Linked DNA regions of Homo sapiens. The protein of the gene in region 1 interacts with the protein of each later gene in a pairwise test. Each region holds a gene or a part of one and is shown on either strand. Other genes may lie near its edges. The genes, in order: ZFAND3 and FAM25C.

Region 1 (3,812 bases):
ATGAACTCTGAAGCCAAATGCCTAAATTTGAATCCTGGTTCTGGTATCTACTCGTTTGTGACCACAGGCAAATTACTTAATCTTTTTGTGTCTAATTCCTCATCTATGGAATGAGTATAATGACACTATCTACCTCATTGGGTTATCACGAAAAACAATGAGAAAATATGCATGTAGAATAATGTCTCATATACAAAGTGCTCAATAAATGGTAGCTACTGTTATCTCAGCCTCACATGCATTTTGGTGGCTTGAATTGATTTGTGGTGGCCCGATCCTGGTATGCACGAATCCAATCCAGTTTCCATCAGATGAGATCCTGACCAACTTTTTCCTTAGACCAGGAGTTCTTAACCCAAGGGCCATAATAAGCTGTAGAGAAATTTTATGCAAAATTGGGTATAAATGGATGGTGTATATTTTTCTAGGACAAGAGGCCACAGCTGTCATCAACTCCTCAGTAAGTACATGATCTTGAAAAGATTTTTTAAAACAAAACAAAATCTACTGCCTTAGCATGACCACTACCATTTTCACCGTTTTTTTTTTTCTCCTCTTATATGATTTCTACACCTTGGCCTCTATTCAATAAGTTATAATATTTAAAAAATTCTTTCTTTGCAATGTTATTCCTGTTTAATCCTTTCCATTTTCAATACAACCAAGGTTACTTCTCCAAAGAACTGTAATAATATCACCTCCTCTGCTCAAAAACATGGCTACTGTCTCAAGTCCAAATAGCTTAGCTGGACATTTAGCCTCTATGTCTTGGCCACAACTTACCCTTCCAGCCTTGTCTTTCATTCTCTTCCACAAATGGCCCTAAGACAGTCATTTGCCATTGAGAAACTCCATGCAGCTTTCCTTCCACAGCTCATTCTACTCTGTCTAGTATGTCTCTTCACCACCTTCTATCCATCTTTACCACCACTTCCTCAGTAGGTCAATGCCCTTCAACAGTTGCTGTCTTTAATACATAAGGACCAACATGGGTGTATGCAAACATGTATCAGGGTTTGTCAAGCTCATCATTACTGGTATCGTGAGCTGAATGATTTTTTGTTGCAGAGGACTGTCCTATGTGATGCAGGACATTTAGCAGCATTCCTGGTCTCCAGACATTATCAAATGTTCTGGGGCTGTGGGGTGGGAGATCACTCTTGGTTGATAACCACTGATAAACTACAACAAATATATTTAATTTCCCCTTCAAATTCTTTGAGGACAAAGACTATGACCTTGCTTATTTTATATTCTCGATATTACCAAATATAGCAGTTTATGACAGATTTAGATAAATATTTGTTTTCTGCTAACCTTTCCAAAGTTAGTATACAGAACACAGAACATTCTAACCTACTGTGTTTCTAGATATTCATGAAACTTGAAATACTAAATTTCAACTTAGCTTTCAAAGAAAAAAAAGGCCAGGTCTCACAAGGCTGCAGTGTAATGGTTAAGACCACAGTCCACTGTAACCCTGAACTCCTGGGCTCAAGAGATCCTCCTGCCTCAGCTTCCCAAGTAGCTGGGACCATAAACACACACCACCACGCCTGGCTAATTTTTTTTTTTTTTTGGTAGAGACAAGAGTCTCACCATGTTGTCTAGGCTGGTCTCAAATTCCTGGCCTCAAGCAATCCTCCTGGCTTGGCCAAGTAGAGCTTTTAAAAGGCAAAAACTACTATGTCATAATATCCCTATAATTTTCAACAAATACTATCAACTATATTTGTGCCCTAAAAGAGATGTATATCTCACATACCGCCAGGGATGGGGGATGGAGGGAAAGAGATGTATATTATGACATTATAAAAATTAAGCAGACAATGGGCTGGGCATGGTGGCTCATGCCTGTAATCCCAGTACTTTGGGAGACCAAGGTGGTTAGATCATTTGAGGTCAGGAGTTCGAGACCAGCTTGGCCAACATGGTGAGATCCTGTTTCTACTAATTAGCCAGGCATGGTGGCAGGCACCTGTAATGCCAGCTACTCAGGAGGCTGAGGCAGGAGAATCACTTGAACCCAGGAGGTAGAGGTTGCAGTCAGCTGAGATGGTACAACCGCACTCCAGCCTGGGCAACAGAGTGAGTATCTAAAAAAAAAAAAAAGAAATTAAGTAGACAGTGAACTTCTAACCTACATAATAGCATTCCAACACTGAAGACTTACAGAAGAGTAATACCATCTCCTCCTTCCTTTAAACATCCTATGTTCTATGAAGTATAGTGCTATCTCAGTTAAATGCTTAGAAACAGTCAAGGCCCAGTTAGTGACAGAGGTAAAGCTTCAATCTAAGGCTCCTAAATTAGGGTTTTAGGGTTAGAATCCCTTACTGGTCCCTTGCTGCATATTAGAAATCCTCTGCGGAGTTAAAAATAACAGATCCCTGGGCCTCCCTCCAGATCAATTAAATGAGAACGAGGGAATGGTGCTAAAGATTAAAATTGTTTTAAAAACCCCCAGTGGATTCTAATGTGCAGACATAGGTGAGAGCCACTGCTCTCTAGACTGGTTCAAACTTCATGTACTTTGACGGTATAAAAGGCTATTTCTTCAGGAATGGCTGAAACTTATTCTCTAACTTGCTGAGCTTGGGCCTTGTATGTGGACACTTATCTTGAATTAAAAGAAGTGCTGTTTTTTCTGGGGTCAGGCATTACCAAGATGCTCATCTAAAGTTCTTAAGCTGCTCTCTCTACCACCCCTCAGAAGCCAGACACTTACACTCCTCTTTACTCGGTGAAGTTACATTCAGTTCTGTCGGAAGCGGCTGCTGGCTGGGACTAAGAGTTGGCGTGGTTATCGAGGTATTGTTGTTGTCACTGGTGGTCTCTTCGGAAAACAAATCTGATTGGCTGTTACTTGTACTTGGAGCGGAATCATCGTCTGGCTGTTTCTTTTGAAAATCTGAAGAAAAATAGAAAACGAGCTTAATTAAGGAGTTCACAGTCTCTGAGGATTAGAAAACAATGGAAGTTGGTACAAAAATTAAATGCAACAACACCAATAATAAAGACTGATCTGGGTGACTAAAAAACCATGGGAGTAAAACACTGGTCAAAAACGTTTAAGATTAGTGGAAGGTACTAGAGTTAAAAGTTTTCCAAGGTCCCTTATTATTCAGAAGAATGCAAACATACTGATTTTAACATTCTGTGCAAAGCCAAAGACGCATGTTAAAAATTTAAGGGTAATCAGAAGGAAAAAGGGAATAAAGAATAGTTTTTCAAACTTTTCAGAAGGAAAGGTCATAAGGAAAAAGGCAGCAGAGAAAACAGCAGAGTAAACAGAAAACACATAATAAGATGGTAGAAATAAGTACAAATATGTCAGTAATGGTAATAAATGTAAACAGACTGAACTTATCAGCTAAAAGGCAGAATATTTGGACTAAATGAAGTCCAGTTGTATTCAATTTACAAGGGACATACTAAAAACATAAATATGAGAGGATAAACAAAATGTTAAAGTATAGTTAATCCTTGAACATCATGGGTTTGAACCGTGTGGGTCCACTTGCACGTGGATTTTTTTCAACCAAATGCAGATCAAAAATACAATATTCACGGGATGCAAAAATCATATATGGAAGGCCTACTTTCCATATACGATGGTTCTGCAGTGCAGACTGATGAACCTGAGTATGCACAGATTTTGGTATATGCAGGGGAGTCCTGTAGCCAATCTCCCAAGTATAACACAATCGTATATAAAAAAAAATGTACCTGGCAAATAAATATAAATGAACAGGCAGGGCACAGTAGCTCACGCCTATAATCTTAGCATTTTTGAAGACTGAGGCGGGAGG
Region 2 (4,603 bases), on another chromosome or scaffold:
CCACCGTGCCCAGCTAATTTTTTGTATTTTTAGTAGAGATGGGGTTTCACCGTGGTCTGGATCTCCTGACCTCATGATCCGCCCACCTCAGCCTCCCAAAGTGCTGGGATTACAGGCGTGAGCCACCGCCCCCAGCAATTTTTTTGAGACCGAGTTTCGCTCTGTAGCCCAGGCTGGAGTGCAGTGGCATGATCTAGGCTCACTGCAAGCTCTGCCTCCCAGGTACACACCATTCTCCTGCCTCAGCCTCCCAAGTAGCTGGGACTATAGGCACCCACCACCATGCCCGGCTAATTTTTATGTATTTTTAGTAGAGACGGGGTTTCACCGTGTTAGCCAGGATGGTCTCGATCTCCTGACCTCGTGATCCGCCCTCCTCAGCCTCCCAAAGTGCTGGGATTACAGGCATGAGCCACCGTGCCCTGCCATGTTAAATGTTTTGTCCCAGTGTGCTGTCACATAGTCTTGTGTGACTTTGTCTTCTTATTCCACAGAGAGAACCATCTAGACAGTGTCCTAACGCAGTACGGTCTGTGGCCTCTGATGAGCATAGATAACTGCCCCAGCCAAGAGGCTCTGAAAGGCTGCAACATTAGGGGCAGAGTTTGACCTGGTTAGTCAAAGAACAGGTTGGCCCAGCACCTAGCTTCCCTTCCTCCCTCCCTCCTTCCCTGCCCGACCTCAGCCGGCTGTACCTTTCTCTCCAGTCTCCTTGGCATGTCCCACCACCTCCTTCACCACTTCCTCCACGGCATGAACTGAACAGAGGAGACAAGTCCAGGGTGAGGGCTCAGAGCAGGCCGGCTGCCCCTGAGTCCAGGGTGAGGGTTCAGAGCAGAGCCGCTGCCCTCCCAGTCCAGGGTGAGGGCTCAGAGCAGGCCCACTGCCCTCCCAGTCCAGGGTGAGGGCTCAGGGCTGGCTTATCCTCACAACAGACCTATACATCCCTGGGCATCCTAGATGGGGCTCTGGGATGCCACCCCCAGCCAGGACAGACTGGCTCATGAGAAGGACCTTCCCCCACAGCTGGCTTCATTTGGAGACGCCAGGGCCTTGGCTACCGGGAGACGAGCTCAGTGAGCCCCATGAGGGCATGGGTCCCTGAAGCCCCTTGGCCCTGCCCGGCCTGGAATGGCAATGAGCAGGCAGTCTTGCCAGCTGAGACATGAAACCCAGGCTGGGCCTGTGTGCCAGGTCACACCCCTCTCAGGATGTGCTAGCGCCTGCCTCAGGTTGGTTTCCAAAGCCTCATCCACTAAGACCAGGTCTCTCAAAGCAATTCCTCCAACAAAACGGAATTCTCTGCCTACTTCAGAGTTTTTTAAAGTGTGGGTGGTAGTGTGCTAGAACTGAAGGATTTCAGAGTCAGAAGAAATGGTTCTTATTCTAACTCTACCTTCCACCTCTTGGTTCCCTCATCTTTAGAATGGGAATCTGTTGGGATGATGAGACCCAACACCAGGTCACGGGGGCGGCAAGTCCAGCGGAGTCAAAGGAATGAGAAAGAGACAGTTCGAGAGAGAAAATGGGAGCAGGGCGCTATCGCGAGTGTGGAGGCTGCGAAGGCCCCGAGTTCTGGGAGCCCACGCTATTTATTGGTGATCTAACAAAGAAACAGGTGGTGAGGATGTGGAGGTTGAAAGGCAACAGTGTATCAAGTGAATGAGAAACATATGGCTACTTGAGAGAATGGCAGTGCTAGAAGCAAGGAGCCAGCAAGTCTAGCAAGCCCTGCCTCAGCTTTTCTCCCAACACTCAGCTTTTCTCCCAACAGGAATCATAGAAAACTCAGAGGCTAGTGAAAGGTTAAAGCAGGTGGTCCACACCAGCTGCAGAGTCAAAAACAAAATACGCATCTGCTGCCATTTAGAAAGAGGACACAAACTCAGGCAAGACTTTTTCACACGATGACCCATGAGTGGGGCCTGGCTGGGCCTCCCCACACATACCTGCTGACCTCTGAATACAACATACACTTCGGGACCAGGTGCAGTGGTTCACGCCTGTAATCCCAGCACTTTGGGAGGCCAAGAGGAATGGATCACTTGAGGGCAGGAGTTTGAGACCAGCCTGGCCAAAATGGCGAAACCCCGTCTCTGCTAAAAATACAAAAATTAGTCGGGCGTGGTGGTGGGTGCCTGTAATCCCAGCTACTCAGGAGGCTGAGGCATGAGAATCACTTTGAACCCAGGAGGCAAAGGTTACAGTGAGCCGAGATCGCACCACTACACTCCAGCCTGGGTGCCAGAGCAAGACTCCATTTCAAATACAAATACAAATAAAAATAAACATGCTTTAGGGGACTTGGATGAAATTGAAAATGCCCTTTTTGACTTTGAACAGACTTGGTGACTTGTTAAGAAATCTTTGAAGCTTTAAAGTTATGGTAAAAATAAAAATCCATCTTCCTTTTCCTGCATAGGTTATTCAGAATAGGCTGTTTTGACAAGAAAGGCTCCCCAGATTTCCAGAGGGAAGGGTCCAAGCTGCCAGTGTTCACCCAGCACCAGGACTCATGCCCTGCCCCCAGGAGACCTCCCCAGGTCTGCACCCCTCAACTCCGTGCTGACTTGGTAGAGCAGGAGACCAGGGTTCCTGAGGGGCCAAGGCCTCCCCGCAGGTCCTCGCCTGCCTACGTAGATCCGCCTCCCACAGACCCAGTCTGCCCCAGATCCCCCCAGCCCAGGTAGAAAGGAGCCCCGGGTCCTCACTGGCTCCCTCGGTGGCCTTCTCGGTGCGGTGGGCCAGGCCCTCGGCAGCCAGCTTCCCCAGGCCTCCCAGCATCGTGTGGCAGCAGACAGTGGCGAACTAGGATGCTGAGGACTGGCCCAACATGCTTTTATAGCTGCCTCTGGTGTCTGTCTAGGCTCTGGGGCAATAAGCCCTCACCCCAGCCCAGTAGGAGGCTGGACAGGTGAGTCAGTGAGGGCGGCAGCAGGAAGGGGCTGGGCGGAGCCACCCTGGAACTAGGGTGGCAGCATCCCCTGACAGCATGAGGCTTCTGTAACCCTGTCCTAGGGACCCCGTGAAGGATAGGGGCAGGGAGCAGGGCTGGACAGTAGAGATCTGGACATGCTTCTTCCTTGAGGCAGAGGGCCTGAGTGCCAGCCCCCCTGAGACCAAAGCTTCCCAAGCCTGGGTACTGATATGTACCTGGAGACAAGGCCTAGGATTCCAAGCCTGCTGCTCAAGGTCCCCAGTGTGGCCTAGTAAGAGGTTTGGGGGTTCTATGGGCCTGGAGACCTGGGCAGTCCTTTGGGTCATGAACACAAGTGGAATGAGGGTGACTGCCCTCCCCATTCCTGGAGACCCTGGCTCTGCAGAGCAGTTTGCGGCCTCCATGGGACAGGGTGGGGCGTTCAGGGTGGTGCCTTGCCCGAGTCAGAGGGGGGCACAGCACTGGGCAGAAGCGTAGTCACCTGGTGTCACTCAGCTGATGCTCACTCACCCAAGAGGCTCTGTGAGGTCAGCAGTGCCCTCCTATCCCCTGGCAGTCCTGGAGGAGTAGACAGAGGCCTCCACCACCACTCAGGGAGATGCTTCTGGCCTTAGCTAGAATCCCCTAGGAAGCAGCTTCCCTGGCTCCTGGTGCATCGCATGAGGAGTGGCAGGGCTGCTCCCTAGTTACTCATGATGGACAGACATGCCTCAAGCCACCTGCCACATGCTGCTTCCCTTAGTCACCAGCCCAACCTGAGCCTCCGTTTCCTCATCTGTAAAATGGGCATAGCGTGTCTTCTTGGCTGTGTCCCTAATCATCCCTGAGACAAAGCATGCAAGCTCCTGGTAAACACCTGTTCCCTCCACTCATCATTGAGGTGCCCTTTGGCAGTGAGCTCTGACCAACTGGTAGGGTGTGCCAAGGAGTGACTGGGACGTGAGGCTGCCTTGGAGCCAGAGGGCTGGGGAATGTGACTTCTGCTGGCCAGGAGCCAAGGAGAGGTCTTCCCATGCTCCTACTTCTGGGGTGCAGGCCTGTGGCAGGGGTCTGAGGCTCTCTCCCCAATGCAGGCTCCTGGAGCTGCTCTCCTGGATGTGTCGGGGCCTGATTAGTTTACTGGACTGTGGGCCCTCCCAGCCTGGGACTCGGGAGCTGAGACCTTCTTGCATTCCTGCATGGTGTTTGCGGGCTCCAGGGCTACGGCCAGTCCCCCTAGGGTGGACAGTGGGTATCGTGGGCAGCAGGACCTCTGGGTCTCAAGACTGTGGCCCCACACATGCCATTGCTGTCTCCTTTGGGCAGGGGTGGATCGGGGCTTCAACAATTTAGAGGGGCCTCTTTATGAAAAAGAATACAATAATATGATTCTTGCACATTTTTCATTTATATACGTATGAACTTCTGGACCCAGAAGGGGCTGTGAAAGTCGGGGGCCTGGAGCTCAGGCGGGTCCAGATGACCCTGTCCTCCTTTTGTAACAGCCAGAGTCCAGGATGCTTTGCCCAGGGCATTGGGCTGGCACTGCAGAGGCCTGGGGGATGGGGGGACACCTGGGACATGGCTGGTGGGAATTGTTCTAGGAAACCTCAGGGATTCTCCCTGGACCTGTCAAAGCCCCTTCCCTGTTTCTTCTGAGGCTGTGTGTCCCCCCACTCGCACAAG

What was found.
Region 2: the proteins of ZFAND3 (region 1) and FAM25C interact in a two-hybrid assay, tested with the Homo sapiens proteins (one large-scale study listed by BioGRID).

What each region holds. Positions count from the first base shown.
Region 1 is NC_000006.12:38,060,692-38,064,503, reverse strand, and holds part of ZFAND3 (AN1-type zinc finger protein 3), read right to left. Parts: intron 2,912-3,812; coding exon 2,729-2,911; intron 1-2,728.
Region 2 is NC_000010.11:47,996,982-48,001,584, forward strand, and holds the start of FAM25C (protein FAM25C), read right to left. Parts: upstream 2,811-4,603; 5' UTR 2,785-2,810; coding exon 2,712-2,784; intron 759-2,711; coding exon 696-758; intron 1-695.